Linked DNA regions of Homo sapiens: region 2 is linked to region 1. The links come from fine-mapping of genetic effects on gene expression. A gene starts in region 1. The other region holds a variant in brackets. All regions are shown on one strand. Distances are from middle to middle. Region 1 holds the start of HMOX2 (heme oxygenase 2). Region 2 overlaps HMOX2 (heme oxygenase 2).

Region 1 (5,372 bases):
ACTCTTCTGGCGTCCCTTTCCCCAGGTATTCTATTCGCTTACTGCTCTATCTTCCCTGCCAGTCCACTCCCTCCTCTTTCCAGCCTGTGCCTTAGACAAGGACCCCAAACAAGGATCACCTGGGAAACTCCAAAAAACAGATTCCTAGTCATAATCCCAATTTTACCAAAAAAGAAGCGTTTGGAAACCCCTTAGATCGACAAGCAGCATCCAAAGACACCAAAAACTTAGGCTCATCAAGTATTAACTTCCTGCCTCAGCCTCCCAAGTAGCTGAGATTACAGGTATGTGCTAGCATCCTACTTATTGTTCACTCTGATAGAATTTTTTTTTCTTTGAGATGAAGTTTTGCTCTTGTCGCCCAGGCTGGAGTGCAATGGCATGATCTTGGCTCACTGAAACCTCTGCCTCCCAGGTTCAAGCAATTCTCCTTGCTCAGCCTCCCGAGTAGCTGGGATTACAGGCTACTTTTTGCAAGGCTAATTTTTGTATTTTTAGTAGAGACGGGGTTTCACAATGTTAGCCAGGCTGGTCTCGAACTCCTGACCTCAGGTGATCCACCCGCCTTGGTCTCCCAAAGTGCTGGGATTACAGGCGTGAGCCACCGCACCCAGTCTAGGTCAAGTTTTTCATCTCTTTCCTTTCCAAGGAGTTAAAGCTGAATTTCAAATTTTACAGTGAAATACACAATTCTAATTTTCTTTCTTTCTTTTTTTTTTTTTTGAGATGCAGTTTTGCTCCTGTTGCCCAGGCTGGAATGCAGTGGCACAATCTTGGCTCATCGCAACCTCTGCCTCCCAGGTTCAAGTGATTCTCCTGCCTCGGCCTCCCAAGTAGCTCGGATTACAGGCACACACCACCATGCCCAGCTAATTTTTGTATTATTATTATTTTTTTCTTAGTAGAGATGGGGTTTTTCCATGTTGGTCAGGCTGGTCTCTATCTCCCGACCTCAGGTGATCCGCCCATCTCGGCCTCCCAAAGTGCTGGGATCACAAGCATGAGCCACTGCACCGGGCCCACAATTCTAATTTTCAAATATATCTTCCTCCTGGAGGAGTGATATTCCAGTTTTGGGTGCAATCCTGATGTAGAGCCCAACTGTCCTGTGAAGAGAGTCAGCTGTTAAAAGGAAACCAAAAAATCAAGGTAGCTCTAGCTGTCCAATTTTACAAGTTTTCAACAGACTTGATGAGGGGTGAGCTAAAGGCGGTCAATGCTTTATTGTCTGTAACTCACTGGCACTGGCATTTCTAGAGTTGCTCACGTTCCCCCTTTTGGTGACTCACAGCACTTCAACATGTTGCCACAGCCAAGGAAAAAAGGAAATCAAGTCAGACAATGGAGGAATCACAGGATTTCCCTCTTCACATCCCCAGGTAGATGAGGTCATTCAATGAGTGTGTTTCCAAGGCTCCACAAATTCCCACACCCTCACCAGTGTTTAAACCTGAATGTTTTATCTGATAACTTTTTCTAATTTCACCAAGTAAGCTTATATATGTCTTAACTGTGAACTCCTGATAAGCACAAATTTTGTCTTGTGATAATTTATTTTTTTCTTTTTTGAGACAGGGTCTCACTCTGTCACCCAGGCTGGAGTGCAGTGATGCGATCTCAGCTCACTGCAATCTCCACTTCGTGGGCTCAAGTGATCCTCCAACCTCAAACTCCCCAGTAGCTGGGATTACAGACACGCGCCACCCCGCCCGTTTAACTTTTTTGTATTTTTAGTAGAGACGGGGTTTCACCATGTTGGCCAGGCTGATCTCGAACTCCTGACCTCAGGTGATCCGCCTGCCTCGGCCTCCCAAAGTGCTGGGATTACAGGAGTGAGCCACTGCACCGGCCAGCGTTTCTTTCTTCAATCACACTCCACCTTGTCTGGTTTGTAGCGCCATCAACAAAACACAGTACGTAAGGATGGACAGCCACAGGCCACGACAACCGGCTCATCAGAAGCGATTTTTTTTTTTTTTTTTTTTTTTTTTAGATGGAGTCTTGCTCTGTCGCCCAGGCTGGAGTGCAATGGCGTGATCTCGGCTCACTGCAACCTCTGCCTCCCGGGTTCAAGCGATTCTCCTGCCTCAGCCTCCTAAGTAGCTGGAGCTACAGGCTCACGTTACCATGCCCGGCTGATTTTTGTATTTTTAGTAGAGACGGGGTTTCACTATGTTGGCCAGGCTGGTCTCGGACTCCTGACCTCAAGCAATCCGCCCGCCCTGGCCTCCCAAAGTGCTGGAATTACAGGCGTGAGCCACCGACCCGGCCCAGACGCGATTTAAATGGCATGACACAGGCAGGCCTCGTGCAAAGACTGCAAGGAGGTCCCGGCAGCTTTTGCAGGGCAATTAATCCACCCAGAGCACTGCGCTCAGAAAGTAATAGGTAAACCCGCGTCCGGACTAACCGGCTGCCCCCACACTTGATCCCTCCCAGTCCGACTCTGCTCCAGGGCGTACCAGGGTTCACTCGTGAAGTCACGACACCCACTCAAGGGGCACTTCCTATAGAGATAAGGGCATTAGAGGAAGGGCAGAGCCCCGGTCAATGCCAACAGCCCGGGAAACAGCCAAGCCGGGCTCCAATCTCTGCCGGCATCCCCTGTCTGCACCGCCGACGCCCCCAGCTACGACCCCGGGGGTCACCTCGCCCAGCATAGCCGTGACGCTGGGAGAGGGTGGGCCCAACGGGGACGCCAAAGAGAGCCATTCAGGCCTCCCCGCGCCCCCGGGGAGACGACTTCTGGAGAGCGGCGTCCGCGGTTTCGCCCTCCCCTGACAGCCCCTCCACGCCCTTCTTCGTCCTTCTGCCCGGCCTCACCCAGCTTCCGGCCGCCCCCGGCCGGGTCTCCCCTCAGACCGGCGCAGGGGACCCAAAGGGCTGTGGCCCGGCCAAGCCCAGGTCCGAAGGCCTGGACCGAGGCAGGGCCCGCGAAGGACGCAGCGCGGTCCGAGAAGCCGGGCGGAAGGAAGGCCCCGGGAGGGCGCGGACAGCTCACCTGCCGCAGGTCGCTGTCGCCTGTCCGCCAGCCTCCAGTCAGCGTGCCCGTCAGCGACTCCCTCAGGCGCCGCAGTCCCTGCAGCCCAGCGGACTGGCGCGAGGCCGGCGCAACGTGGGCACGCAGCGCGGGGCGGGGCCTAGAGATGACACGCCCCTTGTAGCTGACACGCCCTTGCCGGGGGCGGGAAGCGGAGTATGTGGCTTTCCCCAGGTCTCTGGAGGTTGCAGGCTCAGGCTCTGCTCAGCGGGGTAAGTAGGCGTGCTTCGGCAGGAACACTAGTGTTCACAAGAGCCGAGGTGTGTGAGGGTGCCTCAGGGTTGAGCACTTTTCTTCCCCAGTGTGGTTTAATCCTTGTACATCCACTCAGTGATGTAAGAAATAGGGTTGTCAACCGTGGCACCACCCACTTGGTCACTTGCCAATGCAATCTGCGAAACTGAGTCTCAACTCTGACACCTCGGTTACCAGTCTTGTATCTGATCTCCCTGTTGCATTATTCGCATTCTTCAAACAGCGGCCAGAATGACAGAATGATTTTTCTTTTTTTGAGACCGAGTTTTGCTCGTCGCCCAGGCTGGAGTGCAATGACGTGATCTCGGCTCACTGCAACCCCCTTCTCCCGGGTTCAAGCGATTCTCCTGCCTTAACCTCCCGAATAGCTGGGATTACAAGCGCCTGCCACCACGCCCGGCTAATTTTTGTATTTTTAGTAGAGACGGGGGTTTCACCATGTTGGCCAGGCTGGTCTCGAACTCCTGAGCTCAGGTGATCCACCCGCCTCGGCCTCCCAAATCACTGCAATTACAGGCCACCGCACCCAGCCCAGAGTCATTTTTTAGTTTTACTGAACACAAAGAAATTACTGAAATCGTGGGCCGGGTGTGGTGGCTCATGTCTGTAATCCCAGCACTTTGGGAGCCTGAGGCGGGAAGATCACTTGAGGTCAGCAGTTCGAGACCAGCCTGGCCAGCATGTTGAAACCCCGTCTCTACCAAAAATACAAAAAAATTTTAGCCGGGCATGGTGGCTCCTGCCTGTAATCCCAGCTACTCAGGAAACTGAGGCAGGAGAATCACTTGAACCCAAGAGGCGGAAGTTGCAGTGAGCCAAGATCGCACCACCACTGCACTCCAGCCTGGGCCACAGAGCAAGACTCCACCTTGAAAACAAAAAACAAAAACAAAAAAAAACTGAAATCAGTGCAAGTAGCAGCAACTTCAGAAGTGAGTTAGGGCTGGGCACGGTGGCTCCCACCTGTACTCCCAGCACTTTGGGAGGCTGAGGTGGGTGGATCACTTTAAGTCAGGAGTTCGAGACCTGCCTGGTCAACCTGGTGAAACCCCGTCTCTACTAAAAAATACAAAAATTAGCCGGGCTTGGTGGCACATGCTTGTAATCCCAGCTACTCGGGAGGCTGAGGCAGGAGAATCTCTTGAACCCGGGGGGCGGAGGTTGCAGTAAGCCGAGATCGCGCCACTGCACACCAGCCTGGGCGACGGACCAAGACACTGTCTCAAAAAAATAAAAATAATAAAATTTTAAAAGTGAGTTAGGCAAAGAAAATATCAAGCGGACAAGGCCTCAAGGGATAAGACTCATGGACATAGCTTTAATTATCTTTGCCTGACGCCCAATACCTGAAAATTAAGATGTTCATGCAAGATAAAGAGGTAATTTTTCTCCTCCTCCCAGTCATCACCCGTAGCATCCGGTTAAGAGGCTCTCCACCTCGCTCATTTTGGTCTAACTGGATTTACACAAACTCACTGTGCACGTGCCTGGGGCGGGCAAACCCGGAAACGACGCCGAGTCCCGCGGGATCCAGGAGGAGCCAACTGCGCCGGAGGAGGGGTTTCGGCCGACACGTCGGGATTGGCGGCTGCAGCCAGGGGTCCTCCGACGCTGGGCTTCCGTGAGCGGCGCTCTGCCAGGTGGGGCCGGAGCTGCGGGGAGGGAGTTGGCGCCTAGCGCGCAGCTCCATCCCCGCCTCTGCAGTGGACTCGGCCGCAGAATCGGGGTCCCGGGCTCCTGGAACTTGTCCCGCCCAGGCCGCGGCGAGGAGGTCACTCCAGCCGGTGGGACCCGGGCCGGGGGGCGGGTGACTGGAACCGGGGGAGGCGGGAAGGAGGAGGGGATCGGGCCCAAGGGACACGAGGTGGGTCGCGGGACCCCGATATCTCGGGACAGGCGTCTTGCCGCTCCGGGCCCAGCCGCCCCCTTCGACACATACTCGATGCATAGACAATGGGGGTGTCCTTTGTCGCTCCTGGCGGGAACCCCGGCCCCACCCCCAACTCCACGCCTCCCATTACCCCCAGATCTCTGGACCGGATTCGTCCCATTCTCGTCCTCATGGTGGACAAGAAAC
Region 2 (5,372 bases), 28 kb before region 1:
TGTTGCCTTTCAAGAAGTCCTTGACAAACTGGGTGTTTTCTGCCCGGTCGTGTGCTTCCTTGGTCCCTTCCTTCAGGAGCTCCGAGAGGTCAGCCATTCTGTGGAGAGATGGGAGGTGTTTGTGTGTCAATTAGCCCTTCCCAGCTTTCCAGAAAGGACCATAGAGAGAAGATTGAGTCCACACCCCAAGGTGACCACCTGTTGTACTGGAGGCTGGGGCTTCTCAGACACTTCACTCCAACACAAATAGCAGCAACTTGTCAGGGAACACAGGACAAGCAGACATGACATTCTGCTCCAAGGACTCAGGACACAAGGGATAACTGTGGCCTGCTCCTTGAGAGTAGTACCCACGTCCATGTGTCTGTGTTGGGAACCACCCAAATGAGCAATGCTTTGCTTCTGTGGCCACCTAGTGGTCGAAGAGACACACATCTGTATTCCCTTCAGTATTTGCTGGCTTCTCTAAGAACAGCCTGCCTTGGAACGTGTCTTCTGGAATTCACACACCTCAGTAAGGCTGTGACCATGGGTCTCCTCAGATGGCCCTACTGCCTTCCTCCCACCTTGGACCCACAGCTTCTTTGAGACTATATGTGACTAGGACCAAGCACGGAAGGATGCAAAGGAGACAACCGAGAGGCTAGGGCCAGGACGCTGGGTTTGTGCTGCTTAACGAAATTACACAGTTGTAAAGGTGTGTGGATGGATGGACAAGGTAGAAAACATGTGATCCTAAAGATGGTGGTACTTGGGCAGGGGCTTACATGTGTCCACACAATCCATCTACAAGAGTGAGAAAAATTTGGCCTTATCATGGTCTGGCTTCTGCTGTCTTCTTTAGGAGATTAGCTCGTTATCATCCATGTGCTGAGAATCAATTTATTATTAGCAATTATTTCAAGGGATAAAAAAAAAACTTGGCCAATGACAGGGCTATGAGAGGCTAATGATGCAGAACAGGGCCTGGAAGCTCAGGTTTAGCATGAGCTGTCCCTATACAGAGTAAGGAAAGGCTGCCCTGCAGTCTTTTATGTGGTAAAAGACTGAACAGAGCCAGCTTTGCCTGCGTTTACCCTTTCTCAGCCCAGATGAGGAAACGCACAAGTTTTTAAAAAGAAAAAAGGATAACTACCATCAAATCCTATCAGCACTCCCAGGAGCACCTGCCCTGCCTCCTTGGATGAGACAATGGACCAGTGGGGAGAGTTCTAAGCAGCCGAAGCTGTATGCGGTCCCTGCAGGGCCAAGCAGGCACCCAGGGGTCCAGAGCTCATGGCCCATGGCCACTCCCCAGTGCTGCCAACAGACAAAACCAGGTGTGCTGAGCACGACAGGTGCTGGGCCCACCTGATTCAGTGCAGCCAGCCCCCATCGCTCACCTCATTTGGTTCTCCTTTTCTAGGGCCCCAGAGTTCTTTTTTTCTGACTCGTCTACCCCCTCTGAGGTTTCCACTTCCGCTGACATTGCTGCTGGGTGTGGTTCTTGCTGCTCTCGCTCCTCTGGTCCTGCAGAGACACAAGGAGCTGGTGATGTGGCACCCACGGCAGTCACTTCCCCAAATACCTGTCGGTTCTGCTTTCCTCAGAGCGAATGTAACCAAGGTGACACCCACACACCCCAGGATTGTTTTCTTTAAAATAAAGCTCTGCCATTACTGGGACCATAGTGGAATATGGAAAAAATCTGAATATGAACAATGTATTAGGTAATAGCATTGTATTGACATTAAGCTTGCTGGTTTTTAAAAATAATTGTACTGCGATTATATAAGAGAATGTCTTTGTTCCTAAGAAATACACACTGGGGTATTCAGAAGTAAAGGTACACTGCCTGCAACTCCCTGTCAGATGGTTCAGAAGACAGTGTGTGTGCATGTGCATATGCTGCAGGGTGGGGGACACTGGCAAGTCAGAAAAGCAAACAAGGCAAAATCCTAGCAGTGAATCTGGGGAAGAGGTATGAGAGTTCTTTGTACTATTCTTACCATTTTTCTGTATGCTTAAAACTGTATCAAGGCAGGGCACAGTGGCTCATGCCTGTAATCCCAGCACTTTGGGAGGCCGAGGCAGACTGGAGTTTGAGACTAGCCTGGTTAACATGGTGAAACCCTGTCTCTACTAAAAATACAAAAAATAGCCGGGCATGGTGGTGCACACTTGTAATCCCAGCTACTCGGGAGGCTCAGGCAGGAGAATCTCTTGAGCCCAGGAGGCAGAGGTTGCAGTGAGCCGAGATCACGCCGTTGCACTCCAGCCTGGGCAACAAGAGCGAAACTGTCTTAAAAAAAAAAAAAAAAAAAAAAAAAAGACCGTATCAAAATTAAAAGTTAGGCCAGACACGGTGGCTCATGCCTGTAATCCCACCACTTTGGGAGGCCAAGGTGGGTGGATCAC[C/T]TGAGGTTAGGAGTTTAAGACCAGCCTGACCAACATGGAGAAACCCTGTTTCTACTAAAAATGCAAAATTAGCCGGATGTGGTGGCGCGTGCCTGTAATCCCAGCTACTCAGGAGGCTGAGGCAGGAGAATCACTTGAACCTACGAAGCAGAAGTTGCAGTGAGCCAAGATCGCGCCACTGCACTCCAGCCTGGGCAATAAGAGTGAAACTCTGTCCAAAAAAAAAAAAAAAAAAAAAAAATTGAAAGTTACCAAAAACAAAGAAAACCTCAAAAACCTTAGGGAAACAAAAAGCTTGGCAAGCAACGCACAGTTCCACCCCTCTGCAAGCGTGCTGAGGCCAGTTCATCCTACCTGTGAGAGGCTGGGTGCCTTGTGCAGAAGGCAGCCTACAGGAGTTACCAAAAAAGCAGACTGTCCCTAGCCTACTCAGGACTTTGCTAGGCTGAAGGAAATATTAAGTTGGCCAATCAATTCCCATTGCCTGCTGCAAATGCTGAGCCTTTGTCAGCCAGGGAAACACAGTCCCATAACAAGGCAAGCTCATCCTCCATCCCTCGGGGCTTCTGCTCAGGCAATGTAAGGCGCAGCCCATTTGGGGAATCTTCCACATGAATAGCAGCACAGTAGCACCGACAACTAATAAAGTAACTCACAAAGACAGAACTGGGGCCAAATCAGGCCAAACTGGGCCAAGGAAAAAGAACTTATTTACTGAGCATTTTCTATGTGCTCTACCCAGAAACAGGTGTCAAGAAGAACACAGAAGTGTTAAGAAATGGTCCTTAAAAGGCCCAAGGCACATATCCTTCCTGAGTTTTCTCTAGATACCTAGTTACATTTTTGTTATCTTTTAGGATATTATAGTACATGGTTTGCTCACTGAGGTCTTTTTGAACCATCTCTCTCACCTTTAGATTTAGCATCTCTACTGGGATTATTTTAGGAAGTCAAGCAATAACTCATATAGCACAATGCCTACCATGTGATAAGCACTCAATGAATGTTACATCATGATCATACTTTATTTTGACTGAGGCTTAGTGATGTCTGAGAACACTCAGAAAATAAACATCGGGATGTACAGAAAAATGGAACCTTCTCTTGACTCCAAATCAGAGACACTCTACTCTGCAATAATGCTGATGAACTGTACGATGCACAGCACAGTCTAGAAGAATGTGAAAGCAGGCAGGTATTACATGCAGGGAAGAGTATGCAGAGGGCTTCCTGGGGCAGGACCCTCAACACAGACAGGATTTGGGGCAGGGCTGGGGGAGGGCCTCCAGATCAAGGGAATATTATGAACAAAGCCAGAAATGGGTAGTTCACAGAGATAGCATAAGGCTGCCCAGCTGTGCGTCCACTTACCAAGGGGCAAAAACAGGCATTGCAAGCTGTAGAATAAGCCTCACATGGGCCTTCAGACCTTGATTTATAAATGTTTTCTTTTTTTTTTTTGGTAAAAGTACAGCTTTGCTAGCCGGGCGCGGTGGCTCACGCCTGTAATCCCAACACTTTGGGAGGCCGAGGTGGGCAGATCAGGAGGTCAGGAGTCCGAGACCGGCCTGGCCAACATGGTAAAACCCTGTCTCTACTAAAAATACAAAAATTAGCCAGGCATGGTGGCACACACCTGTAATCCCAGCTACTCAGGAGGCTGAGGCAGGAGAATCGCTTGAACCTGGGAGGCGGAGGTTGCAGTGAGCCGAGATGGAGCCACTGCACTCCAGCCTGTAATCCCAGCTACTTGGGAGGCTGATGTAGGAGGATTTCTTGAGCCTGGGAGACAGAGGTTGCAGTGAGTCGAGATCATGCCACTGCACTCCAGCCTGGCCGACAAAGTAAGACTCTGTCTCAAAAATAAATAAATAAAATACTTTAAATAATAAGAACAGCTTTGCTGTACACCCTTGAGGACCCTGAGAGCCAAAATTTGTCTCTGGCTGCTCAGTTCTCAGGCAGCAGAGAAAAAGGTGCTGGGATGAAAACACTGAGCTATCTAGAGGAGGGAGGGGTGCAGTAAAGGGTCCTGGAGCCTCTAGATGGGTGATGGAAGTAAAGGACCAGGCTGAGGGCACACACACACCAGGCTGAGGGTCCAGGTACCCCAGGACCACAGGCCCCATGCTTCTTACAGGCAAAATGAGGCAAAGACAAGTGCCATCCATGGCCCAGGTTACCAACTGCAGTAACTTCAGCGTGCTTCTTGCCATTTGCACCTACTTATCATGCTGCACAACAGTGATAGGGAACGTGATTAAATCTCATTAACTGTGTTTTACTCAATAATAACTGCATGCTCTGGGAGAGTATAGTCTTGCTTAATTAAACAACAAGTCCTTGTGCTTCTCCGAAAAATACAAAAAGGAGCCAGGCACAGTGGTTCGCACCTATAATCCCAGCATTTAGGGAGGCCGAGGTGGGCAGATCACCTGAGGTCAGCAGTTCGAGACCAGCCTGGCCAACATGGTGAAAGCCCATCTCTACTAGAAATACAAAAATGAGCCAGGCATGGTGGTGGGCAATTTTTTGTAATCTGCTGTCCACGACTTCAAATTTTCTACACTCAAAATAGGTTCTACCGATTTTACTTTGAAGGAAAGCTAACAGGAAGAATACTGAGTTCTCAAGGCGGGCTGAAAGTACCAACTACCATCTGTACAGACCTGGGGGCTGGGGGCAGAGGAGGCTCCTGGGAAGGCTCGGTTAGCATATTCAACCCACAGACTGGGGCCAGGGGAGGCGACCCTGTGGCCTAGCCACTGTCCAAGGGAGTGGCCACACAGTGTGGCATTCAGAGGCCACCTTGCAACTGCAGAAACATAATTTTTTTTCACTTTCTGAAAAGCTACATGTCCAGACTTAGTCTGGCTGGTTTCTATACTTGAATGCTCTTTTCTTTGCAGGAACCATTGGAATCTCTAGAAAATTGAGGGCCAAATCATAAATATAGAACCTTTTTAGACTTCAAT

The links. PIP is the estimated chance that this variant, and not a neighbour inherited with it, causes the effect.
Region 2: its variant is fine-mapped to the expression of HMOX2 in whole blood (TOPMed, PIP above 0.99).

Annotation. Positions count from the first base shown.
Region 1 is chr16:4,474,117-4,479,488 of GRCh38, reverse strand. HMOX2 (heme oxygenase 2) reads right to left here and starts at 3,091. Exons shown (of 6, transcript NM_002134.4): 1 at 3,002-3,091. NMRAL1 (NmrA like redox sensor 1) reads left to right here and starts at 4,864. Exons shown (of 6, transcript NM_020677.6): 1 at 4,864-4,935; 2 at 5,323-5,372. The coding sequence starts at 5,357. It overlaps LOC124903636 (a long non-coding RNA gene), which reads left to right. Exons shown (of 3, transcript XR_007064964.1): 3 at 1-225. RefSeq lists an enhancer at 2,794-3,295.
Region 2 is chr16:4,501,621-4,506,992 of GRCh38, reverse strand. HMOX2 (heme oxygenase 2) reads right to left here. Exons shown (of 6, transcript NM_002134.4): 2 at 1,383-1,509; 3 at 1-98. The coding sequence starts at 1,468. Among named protein-coding and RNA genes, the nearest start is that of HMOX2, 28 kb to the right of the region's middle. The variant C/T (reference allele first, on the strand shown) is at 2,398.